Homo sapiens: one gene and its partners. The protein of the gene in region 1 purifies or fractionates together with the protein of each later gene. This does not show direct contact. Each region holds a gene or a part of one and is shown in the gene's direction. Other genes may lie near its edges.

What was found.
Region 2: the proteins of SLC30A10 (region 1) and ADPGK purify together in Homo sapiens (affinity purification with mass spectrometry; one large-scale study listed by BioGRID and IntAct). This does not show direct contact.
Region 3: the proteins of SLC30A10 (region 1) and ADCY9 purify together in Homo sapiens (affinity purification with mass spectrometry; one large-scale study listed by BioGRID and IntAct). This does not show direct contact.

What each region holds. Positions count from the first base shown.
Region 1 is NC_000001.11:219,918,534-219,922,186, reverse strand, and holds part of SLC30A10 (calcium/manganese antiporter SLC30A10), read left to right. Parts: intron 1-3,653. UniProt on the Homo sapiens protein: Calcium:manganese antiporter of the plasma membrane mediating the efflux of intracellular manganese coupled to an active extracellular calcium exchange.
Region 2 is NC_000015.10:72,752,749-72,756,401, reverse strand, and holds part of ADPGK (ADP-dependent glucokinase isoform 4 precursor), read left to right. Parts: coding exon 1-151; intron 152-747; coding exon 748-846; intron 847-3,260; coding exon of another isoform or gene 3,261-3,287; exon of another isoform or gene 3,288-3,333; intron 3,334-3,506; coding exon 3,507-3,653. UniProt on the Homo sapiens protein: Catalyzes the phosphorylation of D-glucose to D-glucose 6-phosphate using ADP as the phosphate donor. GDP and CDP can replace ADP, but with reduced efficiency.
Region 3 is NC_000016.10:3,969,921-3,973,573, reverse strand, and holds part of ADCY9 (adenylate cyclase type 9), read left to right. Parts: intron 1-3,653. UniProt on the Homo sapiens protein: Adenylyl cyclase that catalyzes the formation of the signaling molecule cAMP in response to activation of G protein-coupled receptors.

The sequences.
Region 1 (3,653 bases):
AAAAAAAAAACACACACACACACACACAAACAAGAAGGTAAAAAAATTCTTTTAAAAAGTAAAAAAATTAACCAGTGCAGTGGCACACATCTGTAGTCCTAGATACTTGGGAGGCTGAGATGGAAGGATCATTTGAGCCCAAGAGTTCGAAGTTGGAGTGAGCTATGATTGTGCCACTGTACTCCAGCCTGGGTGACAGAGGGAGACCCCATTTTTTCTCTCTCTCTGTCTCTCTCTCTCGGTCTCTCTCTCTCTCTCTCTCTCTGTCTCTCTCTCTCTTTCACACACACACACACACACACACACACACACACTCAGAGACACCCCACAGAATTTTGCCAGTGCACTGTAGTTAATGGTCATGACCAGGCCTTCTTCATCTTTGCATGGGCAGCCAGAAGATACATTGCATTATTAAATGTCAGGAATTGAGTGGGATACTGCTTTAAACAGTTTTTCAAACTGAAGGCTGCGACAATTTGGGCCCTAGAATTAGTTTAGTAGAAAATTAATTATAATTGAATGAAATAGAATAGATAATATTAAGAAGTCATATATAAGGATGAGTTTTGCTTTCCCATGAATTATTTGTTGCAATTTGTATCTCTGTGCTAGGATGCAAAACATAATTCTTACTGTGGATTATGGGAAAAACAAGTTCAAAAGTTACTATTTTATGTAATTCTTAGGGGGTAATAGTGGGATTTCTCAGAAGGAAAAGCTGAAATTGAATTTTAGAACTTACATGAGGCAGGATGCACAGTAGATCTCTGGTCAGACCACCCAGATTGATATCCCCAGTTAACACTTTTTAGTTGTGTGATTTTGGACAAGTTACTTATGTATTCTGTGCCTCAGTTTCCTCATTTGTAAAATGAAGAGAGTACCAGCCATAAATAATCAAAAGGGTCAGATTCCAGTTTTCCAGAGTTTATTCAAGTGAAAAGTTGGCAATGGCCATTCCGGGACTCATCACTCCAGAGAAATGGGGATAGGGTTCCAAAGTTAAAAGCTAAATTCTTGCTTATATATAAGACAAAGAAATTTAGCAGGGTTACAACATTTTGTATACAAGCCTGGTTTAGTAGTTAAAAAAATTAGTTACAATTTGTTTTCTTTTCCACGCGGCTTGTTTTCTTTATAGCTGGTTTTCATTTCCTTTCCAACTTAAAAGAGTGTATTTAACATTCCATATTAAGGGACTGTGATAGCCATGATGTCTTGTATGAAAAAGGTAAGAGGGAGAATGAAAATCAACAGGAAGAGAGAAGGGGGTCTTCCCTGGGGCCCTTTGCCATTTACAACATTTTACAGAGCAATGCAGGTAAGGAAAAAGACTGAATTCAGACATACAACAGCTTACAGCTGCCTGTCACGTAGCTCAGGCCCTGTAATTCACATTCCTTGAAGGCTCAAAATACTTTTGAGTTCCAACAGCTTAGATTTTGCATTACTTATTTTTACAAGGGTAACCACCTTACAGTCCTTAAAAGGACTTAATGGGTAAGTATAATACGCTTAAATCAATACCTGGAGCATATGTGTTAGTTAGCATAATAATAATAATAGTTATTATTATTAAAGACAAGAGTTACTGTATGTCATAGGAGTTATGACAATCAACCAGAAGCTACTGTTTTATTGAATGCCTACATTGCTATTATATAAACAAAGGCAATTTGGAGTATGGCCCTGATCCTCATGTTACTTACGGAGGAAATGGACCTAACATGTATGAGACAATCAGAGAATAACAGACTGTCTCACGCAGTAAACATGACATCACATGTGTATAGGAGATATTAGGCTTTCATATTTTTATGGTAGCATTTTGTACTGTCCTGAAGCAAGTTAAAGCTTCGATTCTTAGCTCCTTGTAGAGGAACAAAGTATTTTTGAGTTTCCCTTCAGTGGTTCAGGACAGGGACTGGGGAGTTAAAAGCTCCTTTGGGGGTGGGGTGTTGGGAGAAAGGAGCACAGCATTAGAAAATGAGAATGTTAATGTATATATTGAATCAAGATCTTATTATCATAAGTAAACACTCATCCAAAAGGAAATATGGGAATTCTTTTTATTCCTGTATTTTTTTGGGGAAAATTTGAGGCAACTGCCTCAAATTACATTTAGTGTTCACATGCCATTTTACCTATGATGTTATTTAGAATTGTGGAGTTGTTGCCAAGAGGAGGAATTAGCTCAATTAAAGCACCTTCCAAATGAGACTGTTTAGTCTTAGCCATGAGTAAGTTGTTAGTAATTTGGATTATTATTAATTCTACTGCATAAGTCTGTGGAATACATGGAGAGACAAAGCAGACCTTTCTTAATATATATGCTTTCTTCTAGAGCAGTGCTTTGGAAACTTGTATGTGCATTCCAATCATCTGGGCATTTTTTTTTTTTTTTTTTGAGACAGAGTTTCACTCTTGTTGCCCAGGCTGGAGTACAATGGCACTATCTCGGCTCACTGCAACCTCTGCCTCCTGGGTTCAAGCGATTCTCCTGCCTCAGCCTTCTGAGTAGCTGGGATTACAGATGCCCCCACAATGTCCAGCTAATTTTTTGTATTTTTAGTAGAGATAGGGTTTCACCATATTGGCCAGGCTGGTCTTGAACTCCTGACTTCAGATGATCTACCTGCCTTGGCCTCCCAAAGTGCTGGGATTACAGGAGTGAGCCACCACGCCCAGACTCACCTGGGCATCTTTTTAAAACGCAGGTTCAGATTCTACAGATCTGAGGTGGGTCCTGAGATGCATCATTTCTAACAACCTCCTAGGTGATGCTGATGCTGCTGGTTTGCAAACTATACTTTGAATTGCAAGATTCAGATGTTGCTTTTTGTAAAAAACAAACAAAATCCCCCAAAACCAAAACCCAAAACTTTGTGTTTATATTTTATAATTTTTCTGACCAAATTTTTACCTAATTTACTTACTGAATCCCAATTTAGTCTTTGGCTAACAATTGGGCACTCAAATCTTTGCTGAGGAATGCATGTGTTCTATATCATAATCAATATCTTTAGAAACAATTCCCTTAATTAAAGGCACCCACAATTTTTAGTATTATCTGTAGAATTTTAATTTTATTTTATTGTGATAAATGGCTCTTTATGCAATGGAAATGTTGCCAGAGTCCCTGTTCTTGGACACCTCTTAAACCAAATGCCATTTAAATGACCACAGACTAAATACAAAGTAGGTAAATGCTTACAGGGAAAGGGGAAAGTGGATCAAGGTAGAAAAAAGACAATTTGTTTTAAACACTCTTAATACAACTTGTTCTCTCTCCCCTTAAACATGTTTAAAACAACGTAAAGCACAGATGATTGTCTGAAAGAAAAAGAAATCATTTGCACAGCCCCTGTTTTCCAGCTTGGTGCCCTTTGATGGGTGGTGAGTGGTAGCGATGTGGCCCAGTGAGACGGCACAGTCGCTCTTCCTGCAGGTCAGAATCTTCCTAGGCTGTTGCTCTTCCAAGGTACTCTGAGTCCTGCGATGGTGGCCTGGGGTTTTGTTTCCTAAGAAGTAGTTGCCATTATTTTGATTCATCCTACTGTTCTAACCAAAACAAAAACCAAAAAACTCCAAATGGTAACAGATATTCATATACCCGGACACCCAAGTCAGTGAGTGTCACGTGGCTTCCA
Region 2 (3,653 bases), on another chromosome or scaffold:
CTTCTCTCACGACCTCTCCAACGGGGCCATGAATATGCTGGAGGTGTTTGTGTCTAGCCTGGAGGAGTTTCAGCCAGACCTGGTGGTCCTCTCTGGATTGCACATGATGGAGGGACAAAGCAAGGAGCTCCAGAGGAAGAGACTCTTGGAGGTAATGGCACTGTTACAGAATTTCACAGATCTCAGCTGGTGGTTTTCTTCAGGTTCCAGCCTCTCTTGGCATCTGCTGCCTTGTCTTAGGTCCTGGCCTCCCAGGGACATATCTTGGCAGCTGGCTGTGGAGCTTGCCTCCTGCTGCAGTGAGGCACCTCACTGTATCCCTTCAGATGTGGGCAGCAGCTTGAGTAGGACAGGGCAGAACATCTTCTTGCCTGAGCCTCTGCATCCTGTGCTAAACCGACCATGGCTGCAAGCTGCAGGGTTTGTAGTTTGTGTCCTTTGTGTTATTTGTATCATCTCACTTCACATCAGCTATGCTGCAACTCCTACAGATTCGTACAGCAGTCGAAGTGAACTGCCATCTCTGATTCTGTATCCCTGATGGCTCTGCACAGCCTAGTCTTCCCTGGTGGGAAGAGTGTCCCTTGTCCACAGAGGTGGTGGGGACCCACATTGCTTGTAGCTCCCGTGAGCATGCAAAGAAGGCCATTACCAGGAGGAACCGCCTCTCAGGATCTGATCTTTTCTTCCCTCTTTCTTGACTTCCTTCTATTTCTAATGGCAGTGCTTATCTTCTTCTCTTTGCAGGTTGTAACCTCCATTTCTGACATCCCCACTGGTATTCCAGTTCACCTAGAGCTGGCCAGTATGACTAACAGGGAGCTCATGAGCAGCATTGTCCATCAGGTAACCTCATGGGACCATCGTTTGGCCCTGATCCTCATAGAGCCTTGCAGAGAAGCTTTTTTGTGCAGTGGGACCATCTGTTTGGGCTCAGGGACTGGCTCACTGACATGTAGGTTTGTGTCACTCAGACCCAAGTCCATGGAGATCCAAATAAGGATCCAGGACTGTTCTGAAACAGCAGTATCTCCTACTAGGTTAAAGTTATGGCAGTGTAACTGACAGATTGTTGATCATATTTCTCCTCTGGAATGGAAAAGTTGAAAGTGAATGGAAAAAACTGAAAGCCCAGCTCAGCTGCTTTCAGTTGAACTTCAAGAAGCTCAAAGCAAAGAAACTTTGAGGGAACCTCCCTCCTTCCTCAGGCATCTGGGTGTTCAGTGCCTGCCTCTGGGCAGCAGCATTGACTAGTATAAATCTGAGCAGGTGAAGCTTCAGAACACAAGCTCTGGAGACCTGGGTTCGCATGCCAGCCTTGCACTCACGGGCTTCATGAACTCAGGCAAGTTACCTCACCTGGCAATCTAGTGTTACCTAATTTTAATTGGTAATATATTCATTTGGTTAAAAAATACCCAAAAACTATGAAAAGATATACAATGAAGTCTCCCTTCTACTTCCTCCCCTTCCCTACTTGCACCCTTCATCAGTTTATTTCCAGAGTTCTTTTGTACAAGTATAAGAAAATACAGAAATATATCCTGATTTTGTTTTCCATCCCTTTTTACCCAAAAAGATAGCATAGCCTACTGAATACTCTGTTCTTCACTTTGCTCTTTTTTTCACTAAATATATCTTGGAGATCTTCCTGCATCACTAACATGGAGAGTATCCTCTGTCTTTTCATAGCCATATGGTTAAAATGAATGTGTAGATGTACCTCCGTTTACTTAACCTGAACCTTCTGGATGGACATATTGGTTATTTACTGCCCTTTGCTGTTACACACAGTGCTGCAGTGAACAACTTGATACATGATTTTGTTTTGCCTGTGAACAAGTCCATATTTAGGAGAAAGTCTCAGAAGTAGAACAGCTGGACTGGAGCATAAAAAAGCACTTGTAATTTTGAGATTGCCAGATTGCCCTCCATAAGAATTATACCAGTTTACTTCCCACTGGCAATAATTACAAATACTTGTTCCCTCATATCCTTGCTACCAGAATGTTAAAATTTGCATTTATATCAGTCTGACAGATGAAAAAATGGTATTTCAGTATACAGTCATCCCTCGTCATCAGCGGTGTGTGGGGCGGCGGGGGCGGTTCCAGAACCCTTCCCAGATACTAGAATCTGCAGATGGTTAAGTCCTGCAGTTGGCCCTGTGGAATCTGTGGATTAGACAAGTTGGCCCTCCCTATCTGCAGGTTCCACATCCTTGAATACTCTGTTTTCCATCTGAAGTTGGTTGAAGCCATGGATATGGAGGGCTGACTGTCGTTGGTTTTGTTTTTTTTTTTTTTGATAGACTTCATTTTTTTTTTATGGTAATATTAGGTGCATAGCAAAATAGAGCAGAATCCAAGAGAGTTCCCATATACTTCCAGTCCCCTCACACACAAGCCTCCCCAACTACCAGCAGCCTGCACCAGAGTGGTACATTTGTTAAGCTAGTGAGCCTACACAGGCACGTCATCAGCACCCAAAGTCCATAGTTTACACTTGGGTTCACTCTTGGTGTTTTTCAGTATAGCTTTTGTTTGGGTTTTTCTTCTCACCTTTAAAAAAATGAGCCATTTCTATTTCATTTTCTCTGTAACTGTCTACTTAACCCTTCTGAGGCTTAGTCTGTACAATGGAGGCAGTCCCTCCTTCCCTCAGAAGATTACAGTAAGAATTGGATGAAATAAAGCCTTTAGCTCAGTGCCTGACACAGAAGAACATGCAGTGAAGGAAAGCTGCTATTGCTCCAACAAAGATGTAGGCCATTAAATTTTTAAAACCATTTTATACATGCACACATACATACAAGGACTCCTCTCTCCTGCAAAAATTGTTACCTTAAGTGTGGTTCTCTGGTTCTAAGGAGGGAAGTGCTAAGTAAGAAAGACAGGGAGGTGGATATTGTGGTTCCCCATCAGACAGAAAACACGGGCACCTGTTTGGTAATCTTTTTCTTACAGTGTTATTGCTAAATTCAGACAGTCTTCCTAACCCACACCTGCTTTTAAAAAGCTTAGCTCTAACATGAAACTGTATGCTTTTTGCTTCTTGGTGTTTTGTATAAAAAAAATCATTATAACCCTGACAGTATGTTGCTTGAGGTCTCCATTTTACTGGTCTAATACTGCTGACATTCAGGAACTGAGAGCCATGCCCCATCAGTGGTAAGAGTATCTCCTATGTGTGCAGTGGCAAAAGCTAGGGACCATGGAAAGAAACACAAAATATAGACACCTCTGCCTTTTGTCTTACAGTGGCATATCACAAAAGACTGCATCTGAAACAATGTTACTGCAGCTTTCCAGTTTCTCCCAAATGATGATGAAGGTGAAGATAGGGGTGTGATAGCTAAAACAGTGACTTCAGGGCCAGGGAGTCCTGTATCAAGGAAGAAAGCTGCCTGCCTGTGTTCCCTGTCATTTAGTCACTGGCTGTGTCATAAGACATCTTAGGAGCCAGGTTATCTCCATCAGAAAGATACCTGTTGTTGTTTTTGTTAGCAGGTCTTTCCCGCGGTGACTTCCCTTGGGCTGAATGAACAGGAGCTGTTATTTCTCACCCAGTCAGCCTCTGGACCTCACTCTTCTCTCTCTTCCTGGAACGGTGTTCCTGATGTGGGCATGGTCAGTGACATCCTCTTCTGGATC
Region 3 (3,653 bases), on another chromosome or scaffold:
TGAGCTGTGATGGTGTCCTTGCACCCCAGCCTGGTTGTCACAGCAAGACTCTGTCTCAGAAAAAAAAGGCCAGGCACGTTGGCTCATGCCTGTAATTCCAGCACTTTGGGAGGCCAAGGCAGGTGGATCACCTGAGATCAGGAGTTCAAGACCAGCCTGGCCAACATGGCAAAACCCCGTCTCTACTAAAAATACAAAAATTAGCTGGGGTGGTGGTGGGCACCTGTAATCCTAGCCACTTGGGAGGCTGAGGCAGGAGAATTGCTTGAACCTGGGAAGCGGAGGTTGCAGTGAGCCAAGATCGGCCACTGCACTCCAGCCTGGGCGACAGAGTGAGACTCTGTCTCAAAAAATAAAATAAAATAAAAAAAAGATTCATTAGCAACTGTAGTTGTCAATAATAAATAAATTAACTGATTATACATTTACTCAAATAATACAACTGTTAAAATGCAGTAAATATGGAAAACATTTAAGATTTTCATTTACTAGGTGAAACTATATATGTACTATAGGTACAACTAGGTATTTATATATAGTAAAAATATGTACAAGATTTATACTTAGGATATAATGAATGAGTGATGATTACAGCTTTAGTACTTAAAAGTAAAGCACCTAGCATCTTTTTTTAACCTTTTATTGATGTGTATGTCAGTATGCACAGAAGAGTACCTGATCATAAAAGGACAGCTCAGTGCATTTTCACCAGAGAACACACCCATTTAACTACCACCCAGACCAAGAAGTAGAGCATTACCACTACCCCAGAAGCCCTCCAACCCCACCGCTGCTGACCCCCTCTCCCCCGACCTGACCACCTCCCTAGGGGCAGATTTTAAATGGCACTGAAATATACCAAAGTGTCAACCGAAGCCACGTTTGGCTGGTTAGGACTGCAAGTGATGTTTGCTTTCTATTTTTTTCAGTTTTTCAATCCCTCTTCTCCATGATAACGGATTACACTGTATTTTACTCTAACTTCCATTTATGACTTATAAATTAACTCCTGCATTTAGTCACATGAAATGCCTCTTTTTGAGCCAGGTGTGGTGGCTCACGCCTGTAATCCCAACACTTTGGGAGGCTGAGGCAGGTGGATCACCTGAGGTCAGGAGTTCGAGACCAGCCTGACCAACATGTTTGTGAAACCCCATCTCTACTAAAAATACAAAAATTAGCTGGACGTGGTGGCGGGCACCTGTAATCCCAGCTACTCGGGAGGCTGAGGCAGGAGAATTGCTAGAACCCGGGAGGCAGAGGTTGCAGTGAGCCTAGATCGCACCACTGCACTCCAGCCTGGGGGACAGAGCAAGACTCCATCTCAAAAAAAAAAAAAGAAAAGAAAAAGAAATTCTTCTTTTTGAAGTGGATCTTTGCTATTTGAATTTAGGAATAGGATCGGCTCCTTTGTTCCTTTGGTATTAAAATAGGAAACACACATTCTAGCTGGGAAGCTGTCCTCGTACCTGTTTCTTACAGATGCCTTCTGTTGCGAGGCAGCCCCCTTGGTTTCTGAGTGCACATGCTGTGTGTGATGGCTTTTCTTCCTTGGAAGCAAAGGTGGAAAGCAAACGCTGTGCTCTGCCTTCCTCTCCCTCTGGCACTAGCCCATGTGCTGCTGTCCCTCCTCTGCCTGGAGGGGCCTGGCCTGCGCCCGTCTCGAGTCAGCTGTGCTGCTGGCTCCGGCTCCCGCAGATTAGAGTGAGCTGTACAAGCGATAACTGATTGAGAAGCCCAGATACAGTCTCCCATTTCCACCACAGAGACTGGAAACACCCCCTGCACATAATGGGGATGTTAGACCTTGGTGACACCTGCTCCTAAAGGGGACTGTTCTTGGTGTCACCACTTTGAGAAACCAAAAGAAAGGTCAACTCCTAACCCAACGAGCGGGGCTCACAAAACCTTCCCCCAGTCCATATTCTCTTCCTGCTCTATTTACAATCAACCAGAGGGCTCATGGAGCTGGACAGAAATATGTTTGAGTCATCATCGTAACAAATGGTTATTTTGCTTAGTACTTGAGATGTAGGATATGTAATGTCATCTGTTTCAATAGCAGTTCACGAAATGAGTCAGTGAAGCACAGGGTGTCTTCCCACTGAGGACTCTTGGTTCCTGGTCATAGGCGTTGAGTCACAAAGCCCGTATCAGGGCTCCCAAGACCAGCCCCAGGTGGACTCAGGACTCCGCAATCTGCTCTCTCACCGCTGTGATTACAGCGAAAAGACATAAGGCAGAATCAGCAAAGGGAAGGGTGTGTGAGTTGACGTTTGGAGGAAGCCGGCACCAGCTTCCAAGAGTCCTCTCCCGGTAGAGTCACACGGGATGGGCTTAATTCCTCCAGCAGTGAGTGGTGACAACACTTGTAACATGCTGCCTACCAGGGAAGCTCATTAAAGTCTCGGTGTCCAGGCTTGTATTAGGGGCTGTTCAGGTCTCCCGCCTCTGCCCAGCACGTGCCTAAATTCCAGACTTCCAGCAGGAAAGCGGGTATTCAGCGTAAACCTCCTTATTTAGACAGTGTAGGCAGTGTGAGCCGCTCTTATCAAGGAATGGCAGGAACCCTCCCCAAATCCCAGCTCCCTGGTGCCAGCCACCACCTTTGCAGGCAGGTCTTTCCAAGGATGGCAGCCTCAGGCCTTTCCTGCACGGAACCTTAGGCTGGAAGGGACGTAGCCATGCTCCAGTCCATCTTCACAGCTTACAAGCGAGGAAACTGAGACCCAGAAAGATGGCATGGCTTACCCAAGATTCTGAAACTCCCCCGCGGTCCAGCCAGGATGGGGCCCAGGGGTTCTGTTCCACCCACGGCCAGGGCTTTTGGCGGTTGTGCTTCGCAGAGGGCCGTGATGGCCACACAGGTCAAGCTCATTGTTTTTTAATATCCCAAGAACAGTTAGTGAAACTTATTAGACACTTTGATTAAAGGACTGAGCTTTTGGCCGGGCATGGTGGCTCGTGCCTGTAATCCCAGCACTTTGGGAGGCCAAGGCGGGTGGATCACCTGAGGTCAGGAGTTCCAGACCAACCTGGTCAACATGGTGAAACCCTGTCTCTACTAAAAAATACAAAAATTAGCCAAGTATGGTGGCGCACACCTGTAGTCCCAGCTACTCGGGAGGCTGAGGCAAGAGAATCACTTGAACCTGGAAGCGGAGGTTGCAGTGAGCCAAGGTCGCGCCATTGCACTCCAGCCAGGGCAACAGAGCAAGAAAGAAAAAAGAAGAATTGAGTTTTGGCCAGGCGTGGTGGCTCATCCCTGTAATCCCAGCACTTGGGGAGGCTAAGGCAGGCAGATTGGTTGAGCTCAGGAGTTCAAGACCAGCCTGGGCAAGATGGCGAGACCCTGTCTCTAAAAGAAAAAGAATTGAGCTTTCCAGTGTGATGGAGCTGTCTAAACTGTGGATCCGCCAGTCGCATATATAAGTATATAGTGACCAAGCCCATTATTGCATCAAATCAACTGGCCTACTCTGTGCGCGGGAGGAATGCATCAGGGTACAGCATTTACATGAACAGAACAGTCACGGTGTTGTAAAAAAGAAAAAGACTAGAATGCAGTTCAACAAATGTTAATAGTGATTGCCTCTGGATGGCAGGACGATGGACAAATCTTTTTTGTCTATTTTTTTCTACATTTTCTATGA